Regions from separate parts of the Homo sapiens genome. Here region 1 is linked to region 2. Evidence: fine-mapped expression QTL. A gene starts in region 2. The other region holds a variant in brackets. All regions are shown on one strand. Distances are between the middles of the regions. Region 1 overlaps OAF (out at first homolog). Region 2 holds the start of POU2F3 (POU class 2 homeobox 3).

The links. PIP is the estimated chance that this variant, and not a neighbour inherited with it, causes the effect. A credible set is the group of variants that fine-mapping cannot tell apart.
Region 1: its variant is the best candidate, but not a certain one, in a credible set for the expression of POU2F3 in transverse colon (GTEx, PIP 0.67).

What each region holds. Positions count from the first base shown.
Region 1 is chr11:120,215,105-120,220,469 of GRCh38, forward strand. All of the region lies in intron 1 of OAF (out at first homolog), which reads left to right. Among named protein-coding and RNA genes, the nearest start is that of OAF, 6.8 kb to the left of the region's middle. RefSeq lists enhancers at 2,535-3,118, 2,935-3,079 and a cis regulatory region at 3,000-3,013. The variant C/T (reference allele first, on the strand shown) is at 2,916.
Region 2 is chr11:120,236,918-120,242,282 of GRCh38, forward strand. It overlaps POU2F3 (POU class 2 homeobox 3), which reads left to right and starts at 3,223. Exons shown (of 13, transcript NM_014352.4): 1 at 3,223-3,454. The coding sequence starts at 3,427.

The DNA of each region.
Region 1 (5,365 bases), 22 kb before region 2:
GGAGGCTGAGGCAGGCGGATCACAAGGTCAGCAGTTCGAGACCAGCCTGGCCAATATGGCGAAACCCCGTCTCTACTAAAAAATAAAAAATAAAAAAAAATTAGCTGGGCATGGTGGCATGCACCTGTAGTCCCAGCCACTCAGGAGGCTGAGGCAGGAGAATCGCTTGAATCCAGGAAGCGGAGGTTGCAGTGAGCCTGGATCGCGCCACTGCACTCCAGTCTGGGTGACAAAAGAACCCAGGTGATTCCAGTGTGCAGCAAAGTTTGGGAACCACTGGCGCAGTTGCTCTAGGGGAGGGGAGGGGACCTGGAGAAGGAGCCAGCTCAGGTTAAATGAGGGTAGGGCCCAAACTCAGTCACATATTTGAAACCTGTCATCTTACCCACACTAATCCTAATGTGTTTTGAGCAGCACATATACTTCGGGCCTAATGCTGTGTGCCCTCAGTACACAAACTAATTCACAGCGCGCCCTTGGTGGGCAACACTCTCCTTTATACTCCACATCCTATGGGTGTAATTAGCCCTGGATGTACATAATCACTGGCATATCTAATCATAGGTGTGTCACCATCCCCTCTCCCTAAACTGGCTATTTGACAGCCCTTCTGGTCTACCTCCTGGAAGCTGGTATTCTTGCCAGTTTCTCTTTCACCTCTGTCCCCTAGTCCGAGTGGCCAAAAGCTGGGAAGAGGATGAGTCACGCTCCAGGCTGCCTGCCTTGGGGCTGACCGGATGGGGAGGGTGATACTGACAGATATGAAGAAGGTCATGTGTGATGGCATCACGGTGGTGGGCGGTGGGGGTCCCTTTCCCCTCCCAGCATCAGGGAGGATAGGGAGACACAGACTCCAAAAGTGTGGAAGGAGGGGATCCTGAAGGCCCACAGCTGGAGCCCTGGAGGGAATAAGCAAGATAAGGGGAACTGTACAGCTGTGTGGGTCAGCTCAGGGCCGCTTCGAAGGGACAAGGACCCATGGAGGATGGAAGCTTGAGCCCTGTCCTGGGCACTGATGAGTGAGTGGGAGCCAGAGGAAGGGATAGTCCAAAGAATGCTAGGGCCCCTGTGCCGGGGGGCCTGGTCTGTGGGTGGGGGAGCAACATGGGAAGCCTTGAGGTGCAGTCAGTAAAGATGTGGAATGTGCAATGTCCACGTTGCCACCTAAGAACGTGTATCCCAAGGAGATATCACAGCACATAGATGTGGGACCGAGAAGCTTTCAGGGCCCAGTCTGCCCCTACCCTGTCTGTGTTAGCACCCTTAAGATTTGGCGTGGAAGCATCTGATGGATGGAAAGTCTCCTTGGGGAGGAAAAGGCAGTGGAGGTGCTTTCGGGAGAGGCCCAGACTTTTCTGGAGCTCAGAGCATTTCCTCACAGGTATTTACAAGAAGTCGCCAGATGGAATGACCAGGCTCACTGACATGGGGCTCCTGGGTCTAATATCTGTCCCTCCTCTGCGTGTGAGGAATTCCTCCTCAGATCAGGATGGCCAGCCCTGCCTGAGGGTTCAGACCCCCTCCCGGGAGCTTGGCCAGCATCTCCCACCCCTGAATGCTATGTCCAGGTGGAGTCCTAGCAAAAGATCCCGGTAGGCCATGAAGACTGCCACCTGGGATAATGGAGGATCCTGCTGGGAAGCTGGTGGGGAGAGTGAGTTAGTTCCCTCCCAGGCTTCCCAAGGCACAGAGAGGTGGTGGAGATAAACTTAGGACAGACTCCTGTTCCGCTGGCGGAGGGCCCAGCCTTGAAGTGAGGATTGCATAGGGTCTGGAGATCACCCATTGAGCAGTCCCTCATGTCACACATGCTCTTATCTGATCGCCTGGAGCTCTCAAGTGAGGCTGACAAGATGAAGCAGCTGATGATCCCAGATTAGGACCCAGGGTTCCTTCCAGTATATCCTGACTGCCTGTCTGCCATGGTACCATGAGTGGGCTCCTTCCAGTAGGCTAAAGAACCCTGGGGAGGGAGGTGGAGGGGAGAAGGAGGCTGGAAAAAACCTTGGTGCAGAGGAACAAATCCACAGAGACCCTCGTTTGTACAGACTTGGGCTGGACCACTTCCCCCACGCTCTTACCTCCAGTGGATGGAGTGTTGGCTACTTGGCCATGCCTGCAACTCCTCTCTCCCCTGCATGGCCTCTTGGGGAGCTGGGTGAGGGGGATGAGTTTGGAAAATATCTCACCAAGGCCAGGTGTGGTGGCTCATGCCTATAATCCCAGCATTTTGGGAGGCCGAGGCAGGCGGATTACTTGAGGCCAGGAGTTCGAGACCAGCCTGATCAACATGGTGAAACCCTGTCCCTACTGAAAATACAAAAATTAGCCAGGCATGGTGGTGTGTGCCTATAATTTCAGCTACTCTGGAGGCTGAGGCGGGAGAATCACTTGAACCGGGGAGGCAGAGGTTGCAGTGAGCCGAGATCACGCCGTTGCACTCCAGCCTGGGCAACAGAGTGAGACTCCATCTCAAAAAAAAAGAAAAGAAAATATCTCACAGACACTAGTGAGCAATCACTATGTACGTTTTTTCCTGCCACTTACCCACTGTGTGACTTGGCAAGTCACTTAACCTCTCTGAGCCCCAGGCTCCTTGCCGGTACACCAGAGACAACAGTGTGATGCTTGGGGTTCAGTGTGCGCAGTGACTAAGAGGCCCTTCGCAGAACAGAGGCCCGCGTGGGCATGTGAGGAGTGAGGTGCCAGTGCCCGCTTGGATGTCCGTCTACCCCACCGTTAAGCATGTTGCTGCAGCTGCTGCTTTTCTGCTGTAGGGACCAAAGCATCATGAGGAGCTAACATCCTTGAAGTTGGCAAGTGTTGAAGTGGCTGCCACTAGGGATTCAGATAAAGGGCAGGGAGAGGCATCAGGGCTGGGAGTGCGGGTGAGAGGGAAGCATGGAGACCCGTCT[C/T]AGGAGCACTGAGTCAGCAGCACAGTGGGGCGCAGTTGATCCACATAAAGCCTCACATTGTTCCTGCAGCAGTCAGGACAGTGGTGACCTTTGGGATTCGGCTGACAGAGCACTGCTCTGGGGAGGGGCTGGGGGCAGGAGCACTGCTCTGGGGAGGGGCTGGGGGCAGGAGCACTGCTCTGGGTGAGTGGTTGTGCTAATGCCCCAAGACAAGCAGCCTCTGTCCAGGCCTAGCCCTGAGGGGATGCTGGCATCTCATCATGGGGCGGCCTAGGTCCCTGGGCACTGGCCTCGGGATGTGCGTGGCCTGGCTCTGGGTGGAATCCATCCACCCCGTTCCTGCTCGAGAAGCCTGGGCAGAGCAGCCAGGGTGCTTCCAGCTTTGCCGTGGGGCTAGGAAGGCACTGCTTCCTGGCTGGCTCTGCAGGCTAAACCCCCTCTCCCCTCCCCAGCCCAGCGAAGCCAGCCACTTCTCTAGCCATAAAGCAGCCCCAGCCAGGAGCAGAGGAATAAATATTTAGATTGGCTCAGCCTGGGCCCCAGAATCATGCTCTCTGGTGTGACAGGAAGGAGACCAAGATGGCAGAGGACACTCCCAGGAGAGAGCGCCAGCTGTCCAGGAGCAAGAGGGTTGGAAGAATGGGAGGGGGCCAAGTGGCTTGTGTGGCCCTAGAGCGATGACCTGCAGCCTGGGCCATGACCAGCACTGGACAGTGGTGGCTGGAAGCAGGGTGTGGAGGGAAGGGGCAGTCTGCTGCCCTGGCCCCCTTTGCTTTCCATTCTCCTGCAGGCGGGCCTCCCCCCAAACCCCAGGGCTTTCTGGGGAGGGGCTGAGGAAGAGCGCCTGGAGAGTGGGGCCAGCTAGGGACCGTGATGGGAAGGCAGGGTGCCAGAGGAGACCGGGCAGGCTGGAGCAAGGTGATGACATGCGGTAAGAGTGTGTGCCTGCACATGCACGCATGTACACGTGTGTGTGTGTGTGTACACACGTTATGAGAAGTGGCATCGGGAGGAGGCGTGTGAGGAGAATCGAGCAAGTGAGGAGGGTGATGCGGGGTGTGCCCTGACGCTGGGCATGAGATGGGGAATTCACAGGGGGGGTGGGCGTGGGGACTGCGGAGAGGGGTGTGATGAGACGGTGGGGAGCCGCCTCTGCCGGCAACAGGGAGACTGAGGGAGGAGACAGGCCCAGATGCACCCCTGTGGAGGGAATGGGAATGTGGAACAGGAGCCACTGGGAGACCTTGCGGGAAGGAGACTGAGACCCAGCTTGTCTGTGAAAGAGGACGGTGTGCGCGAATGGGGAAGCCGTGTGAGCCTGTGCATCAGTTGAGATTAGGCTCAGCCGTGAGCAACATAAACCCCCAGGAACAGCGGCTGAGGCCGTGGCAAAACAGCCTGTTTCATTCTTCCCAGTGTTATCTGAGTCTGGAAGCCAGTCAGGGCTGGTGTGACAGCCCCGCTATCCCCTGGGATCCAGGGGCTCCCTCCCCACCCTCAGTGCTGAGCACAGGATGTCTGCCCAGGGGTGCTCTGCCGTCTCTCAGCGCATTCCCCCAGTGCAGCTGAACCAGAGCAGCCTTCCCTCTGGAGACACAGGTGGATCCCAGTCAGACAGCATGGCTGGGATGGGCACAGGGAGGAATTGAGTATCTGGACAAGGGCTACGGAGGGGAGCCAGGACAAGCATGAAGATCACTGGACTCAGAGTCAGGAGGTCTAGGCTTCTGGCCCTGGCTCTGCCACTGTGTGACTCATGAAGGTTACTTCCCTGCTGGAACCTCACTGGGCCATGAACTAGATGATCCCCTAAACCTTCTAGATGCCAAAATAGCAGCTGTAGCACTATCAGCCTGCAGGAGCCCAGCTGCAGGCAAGGCCGAGAAGAAAGAGTGTCTGCACATTGGAGGCCAGTGGGTTGATGGAGGCCCTAGAGCATTCATTCGTTCCTCCAGCTACTAAGCATTGAGCCCCAGCTGTGCGACAGACCCCAGGGTCACCATGTGAATAGGCTAGAGTCGCTGCTCTTGAGCCAGAGGCAGGTCACAGAGGGCTTGGATGACTAACTGCCTGGGCAGAAGGTGCTCCATGAGGACAGAGACCATCTGACTGGGGCACTGAGATCCAAGGCACTCTCACAACCTCAGGCAGAGTCTGATTCAGCTCCAAACCACAGGTCCCTCATGTCACCCCAGGCTCAAACCCACCAGTGACTTCCAGAGAGGCACAAGAGGAAGCCTCCCACTCCTCAGCCTGGTTCAGACCCTGCGTCCTGCTTGTGTCCTGACCCCTTGCCAGCCTCATCAGCACTCACGACCCTTCCCCTCCTCCCCTAGTACATTCCCACCGCTTTTCTCAGAGAACTCTTCCATGCTGTTGTTCATTCACCCTTCATGTATTCCTTATCAGATGTTTATTGAGCACCTGCTGTGTTCCAGGGGGCAGGGATG
Region 2 (5,365 bases):
TTCTGTTTTCTGGGGTAAGTCCCCCTCCTTGTGGGCCTCAGGTCCCTCAAATGAAGGGTTCAATGATATCTAGGTTCTTTCTACCTCGTTATCTGATAAGAGAAGGGGAAGCTCAGATTCAGAAACTGGAGGGCAGGACTAAAATCCTGGCTTTGGGGTTGGCAGCCCTGGGTCTAAATACCAACTCTGTAGTCTACTAGCTGCGTTTACTTCTCTGAACCTCAGTTTTCTCATCTGTAACGCAGGGCTAATAATTGTACCTTCCATCTAAAGTGGCACTGACTAAAATCAGATGGTGTATGTTCAGCATGGAGCACAGTTCTTGGCACGTAGGAAGCACTCAATCTATATTCATTGAGTGAATGAGTAAATGAATGAATGTGAGGGAGTATCTGCTATCCTCTCCCCACCCAGCCCCTTCTGCCCCGTTCATCCTCCTACCTCCACACTCCAAGTTTGGAACCCAAAGCTGTGCCTCCAGCTGTGAACCTCCAAGGTCCTATCTGTGCCTCAGCTTCCACCCCAATCCCCACAAGAACTCCATATCCCCATTCCCCCCAGAACCCCAGAATCCTAGGCTGCTGGAGACAGAAGGCCCTTTGAAATTATCAAATATGGGCCTCTCTGACTTTTGGAAAACTAAAGCCCAGAGAAGAAATGTGACTTTGCACATGAAAAAGGGCAACGGGCCCCAGATAAGGTGGTCGGAGAATGAGACCCTCGGTGCACATGGCCATGCAAATAATATGCAAATAGAGATATGGAAATCACAAGCACACAGGGGTATATAAGCTGTGTGCAGGCATTTTTCCAGAATGGTGGTAGGTGAGTGCAGTTGTAGGTAAGAAATGGACTTCAGGGAAGGGGCCAAACCTGAAGTTGGGGAGGAGAAGAAAAGGCCAGAAGGGGATGGGAGTTGGGGGAGTGTTGAATAGGAGGGAAGGAAGGAACAGAGGCTGAGAGTGTCCTGAGAGGGACCCCCTTGGGCCTCCAATAAGCCCTTGCTGGTCTCTTTCCTCACCCAGAAGAAACAAGAAAAAGTGCAGGGGACGGTGGCTCACACCTGTAATCCCAGCTCTTTGGGAGGCCGAGGCAGGCAGATCACCTGAGGTCAGGAGTTTGAGACCAGCCTGACCAACATGGAGAAACCCCGTCTCTACTAAAAATACAAAATTAGCCGGGCATGGTGGCGCATGCCTGTAATCCCAGCTACTCGGGAGGCTGAGGCAGGAGAATCGCTTGAACCTGGGAGGCGGAGATTGCCGTGAGCCGAGATGATGCCATTGCACTCCAGCCTGGGCAACAAGGTAGAAACTCCATCTCAAAAAAGAAAAAGAAAAAGAAGCAAGAAGAAGTTTCTCTCCTCCCTTCTTTTCGGGAGCGTGGGGAAGGGAGGTCCATGTGACTGGGGAGGGTGGTGTATGTGGACCTGAAGAAGCAATTAAGTGCTTCCTGTTCCTCTGGGGCCACTGTAGCACCCACAGAACACTTTCTGATACCTGTTGTGTGCCCAGCCCTGTTCTAGGTGCTGGGGTGCTGGCACTAGAATGAAGCAATTGATCAGTTACCAACCAGGGGGTAAGCTAAGAAAAGGCCCTCAGAACCTGCCACGAAGGCTGTTAAGAACATGGAACTTAGGCTGGGCGTGGTGGCTCACACATGTCATCCCAGCACTTTGGGAGGCTGAGGCGGGTGGATCACGAGGTCAGGAGATCGAGACCATCCTGGCAACGTGGTGAAACCCTGTCTCTCCTAAAAACACAAAAATTAGCTGGGTGTAGTGGCACGTGCTTATAGTCTCAGCCACTCAGGAGGCTGAGGAGAATCGCTTGAACCCAGGAGGTGGAGGTTGCAGTGAGCCGAGATTGCACCACTGCACTCCAGCCTGGCAACAGAGCAAGACTCTGTCTAAAAAAAAAAAAAAAAAAAAAAAAAAAAGAACACGGAACTTAAACTCTCTAAGCCTCATTTTCCCCATCTATAAAATGGCAATAATCATAGTACAATGTACAGGTTTTGAGGACTAAACAAGAACTAAAGGCACGAAAGATGCCTTTCAAGTGTTGGTCACCCCAGTGCTTGATACACAGTGAAGGCACACGAAATGCTGGGTGTTATCGTGGGCATGACTGGAGTGCACGGTGGGATGGGCGTGCCAGGGGGAAAGGACACTGTAAACAAGGTGTAGAGGCAGGAAAGCCCAAAACCTGTTCTGTGCTCAGAAAGTAGCCCATGGGACTAAGGAGAAGACATGTTCATGAGGAGTCCTGTCTGGGAAGGAAAGCGAGGCCCTGCCCTCCTGTCTGCACACAGCTTTCTGGGCTTCCATGCAGGCCATCCTGTGGTGACAGACCACTTACTGGGACTTGAAGAGACGAAGAGAAAGGGGTGAGCCTATGATGGGTGCTGCAAAGAGCACTGGAGTGGGAGTCCAGAGACCTGATTCCAGCCAGGCTCTGTCACTAGGGAAGTGTGCACCTTTGAGCAAGCCGCTTCCCCGCTCTGGAAGGTGGCTGTCACCAAAAGCCTGGGCACTGGTAACTTCCACATCCATCATCTCGTAGAGCCTCACAGCAACCTGGGACCTGGGGCGGGAGACTGGAGGGGCAAGCAGGAAGCAGTTGTGTGCACCTGGAAACTCTGCTAATAATAAACTGCACCCCGTCTAAATCCCACAATGCTGTGAGGATGCCATGGGGGCTAGGTGAGCTTGGTCACCTGCTCAGCCCAATAGGGAACCCGATTAGCACCTGTCCTGTTTTACAGGTGAGTTAAATGAGCTCAGGGAGGTGAAGAACCTTGTCCCAGCCACACTGCTGGTAAGCGGTTGGGAGGCGAGATTCCAAAACTGAATTCTTTCCAGCAGACCCCCGCGACTTCTCCAAACACTCCAACTCCTTGCAGCGCTTACACTTCGCGATCTGTCCAGAAGGAAGCTCGGGCTCAGGCTGGAGAACCCGCCAGGGCTTCCTAAAAAGGGCGAGCAGGACCAGGAGTTGGCGCCACTCCGGGCGCGGTGAGGAGGTGCTGCCAGGCTGGGTTGGAGCAGGCAGGTGTTCCGCGGGATCGAGACCCGCCCCGGCAGCACCCCCGGCCCCCTCCCCAGGTCCCCAGCTCCATGTATGCAAATCACTGCTTTGCATGGGCCTGGGGCCAGGCGCGGGGCTCCTGCCAGGGGGCGTGGCCGGCGGCCCCCGCCCCGCGCCGCGTGCTCACCTGGGGAGTGTGGCAATCCTGGCGGCGCCGAGTGTTGCCCGGGCCGGAGCAGCGGAGCGCGCGACAGTGGCGGCGACGGCTCCGGCAGCGGCTCCCGCGGCGGCGGCGGCCGGGAACTGGAGGAAGGAGACCCTGGCTTCGCAGGGGCCCCGGCTGGGGCAGAGGCGAGGGGCCTGGGGGGGCGCTGGCTTTGGCCCCGCCTGGGGCAGGATGGTGAATCTGGAGTCCATGCACACAGGTGAGGGGCGGAGGGAATGAGCTCTGACAGGTGTCACTGCGCGTGGGCAGGGGTGAAGGAGAGGGACAACGTTCTGGTTAGGGAGGGGGGCTTGTTTCCCAGCGGCCAGGAGAGGGCGGTGTGGATAGCGGGTTGTCCTGGGGTGGGTGCCGGTCAGTATTTGGGGACTAAAGGGAGGGGATCTGGGATAAGAAACCCTGGAAAAGAATGAGGGTGGGGGCTGGTGAAGGGCGGGAGGGCTTCGAAGCCCCCGGTCTGGGGAGTGGCAGTTGTATGGGACGTGGGTGTACTGAACTGTCATAGTCTCAGGAGGTTGCAGGGATGGGTGGTTCACTCACTCAGCCAGGGGTGTGGACCTGGGAGTGCATAAGTGAGGGAAATGTGTATGTCCACATGCTGTGTGCTGGTGTCCGGGCATATGTGTGAAATGGAGGCAAAGCGGACATTTAGGTGGTTGGGGGGCTTAGGAGAAGTGGCTGAGGTGGGGCAATTACAGAGGTGCCCCTGGGGCAGGGGCCATGCCCCCATGTGTTTGAGAAGGGATGGTGACAGACACATCCTCTGGGTTCCATGTCCCATGCCTTCCTTCCCTAAGGGGTGGAAACCTAGGAGATGCAAATGCTTTGCCGGGAGTCAGGCTTCCCTGAATGAATGAATGAGAGGTGGGCATGGAGGGAACCCAGCCCCTCCATTCACCTTGCTGTTCCTCCTTCCACAGCTGGGCTAAGGCAGGAGCTGCCAGGCAGCCAGGTTGGGCTTGGCTTGGGGCTTCCTGTTAGGGTGGGCCTTCTGGAGGTCACAGGGCCTGAGCAAAGAACAAGTGAAGAAAGCGGTACCTGACCTGGCCATTTCTAACCTAGCAACTTACTCTCAAAGTGGGCAGGACCCAGTGATCTTTCTTTAGGATTTCGGGGCTGTTGATGGGAATGTTGTTACCTGGTCTCCTTTCTGGGAGAGTAGGGAGGAGGCAATGCTCCAGACCCACCCCAAGAAGCAGAGCAGGCCTGAGGCCTACCCAGCCTGAAAACAAGCGTCAGTGAGTGCCCGGAGGGAGGGGACCTGGAGTGCCCAGTTCCCCAGATGCTGTTTCCTGGCAGGGCTGAGTGAGAGGCAGACTGGCAGTGAGATGTTGGCACTGAGTGGCTCTCCAGGACGTGCCAGAAAGGCTAGGTGAGGCGGAAGAAGCCATCCAACTGGGTGTCATCCAGAGTCTGAGGAAAGTCTGTTTCTAGACTGGGCATACCTGGGGCAGATCCCCGGGTAGGTGCTCTCCCCTTCACTGCCCGCAGAGAAGGCCAGGGTTTGAATGGGAGCAAGTCTCTTCAGAAAGGTGGGCTTAGCAGTGGATGGGAAGTTTTTTAGCACCAAGATCACAGACTTCCTGGGGGTTTTCCACCTCCTTGTCTACTGGAGGCTCCCATTCTGTGGAAGTGGGAGGGGGTGGGACAGTTGGGACCCAGCAGGGAGGCAGCCTGGGGCCTCAGAGGATATAGCAGAGAGCAGAGAACACCAGAGGATGAGGTTGAGGCATAGGGCTTGGCCTCTATGCCTTCCCCAGGAGTGAGCTCCTGGCTGATGCTTCTCAGAAGCCCAGACACCTTCTCCACCCTGTCCCTGTGAGCAGGTATTCCCGACACATGGGGGGAGACTGAGCTAAACCCCAGGTGGGGTGATTCCTCAGGGCGGGATCTCCATGTACCTGGGGGTAGATTGCCCAATTCATCTCTCTCCATTTGCCTGCTCCCTCCCCAGCCCATTCCCCCCTCAGGGCTACCTGGCCTCCCTGTGCAGTTTCTGGGTCTTGGCCCCTCTGTAGTGTCTGAGGGTTCCCCTTCAGTGGCACCTCCAGAGGTCTCTGAGTTTAGGACTTTCTGTCCCATCTCTCTAACTGGGTCTCTATTAGAGGGCTCT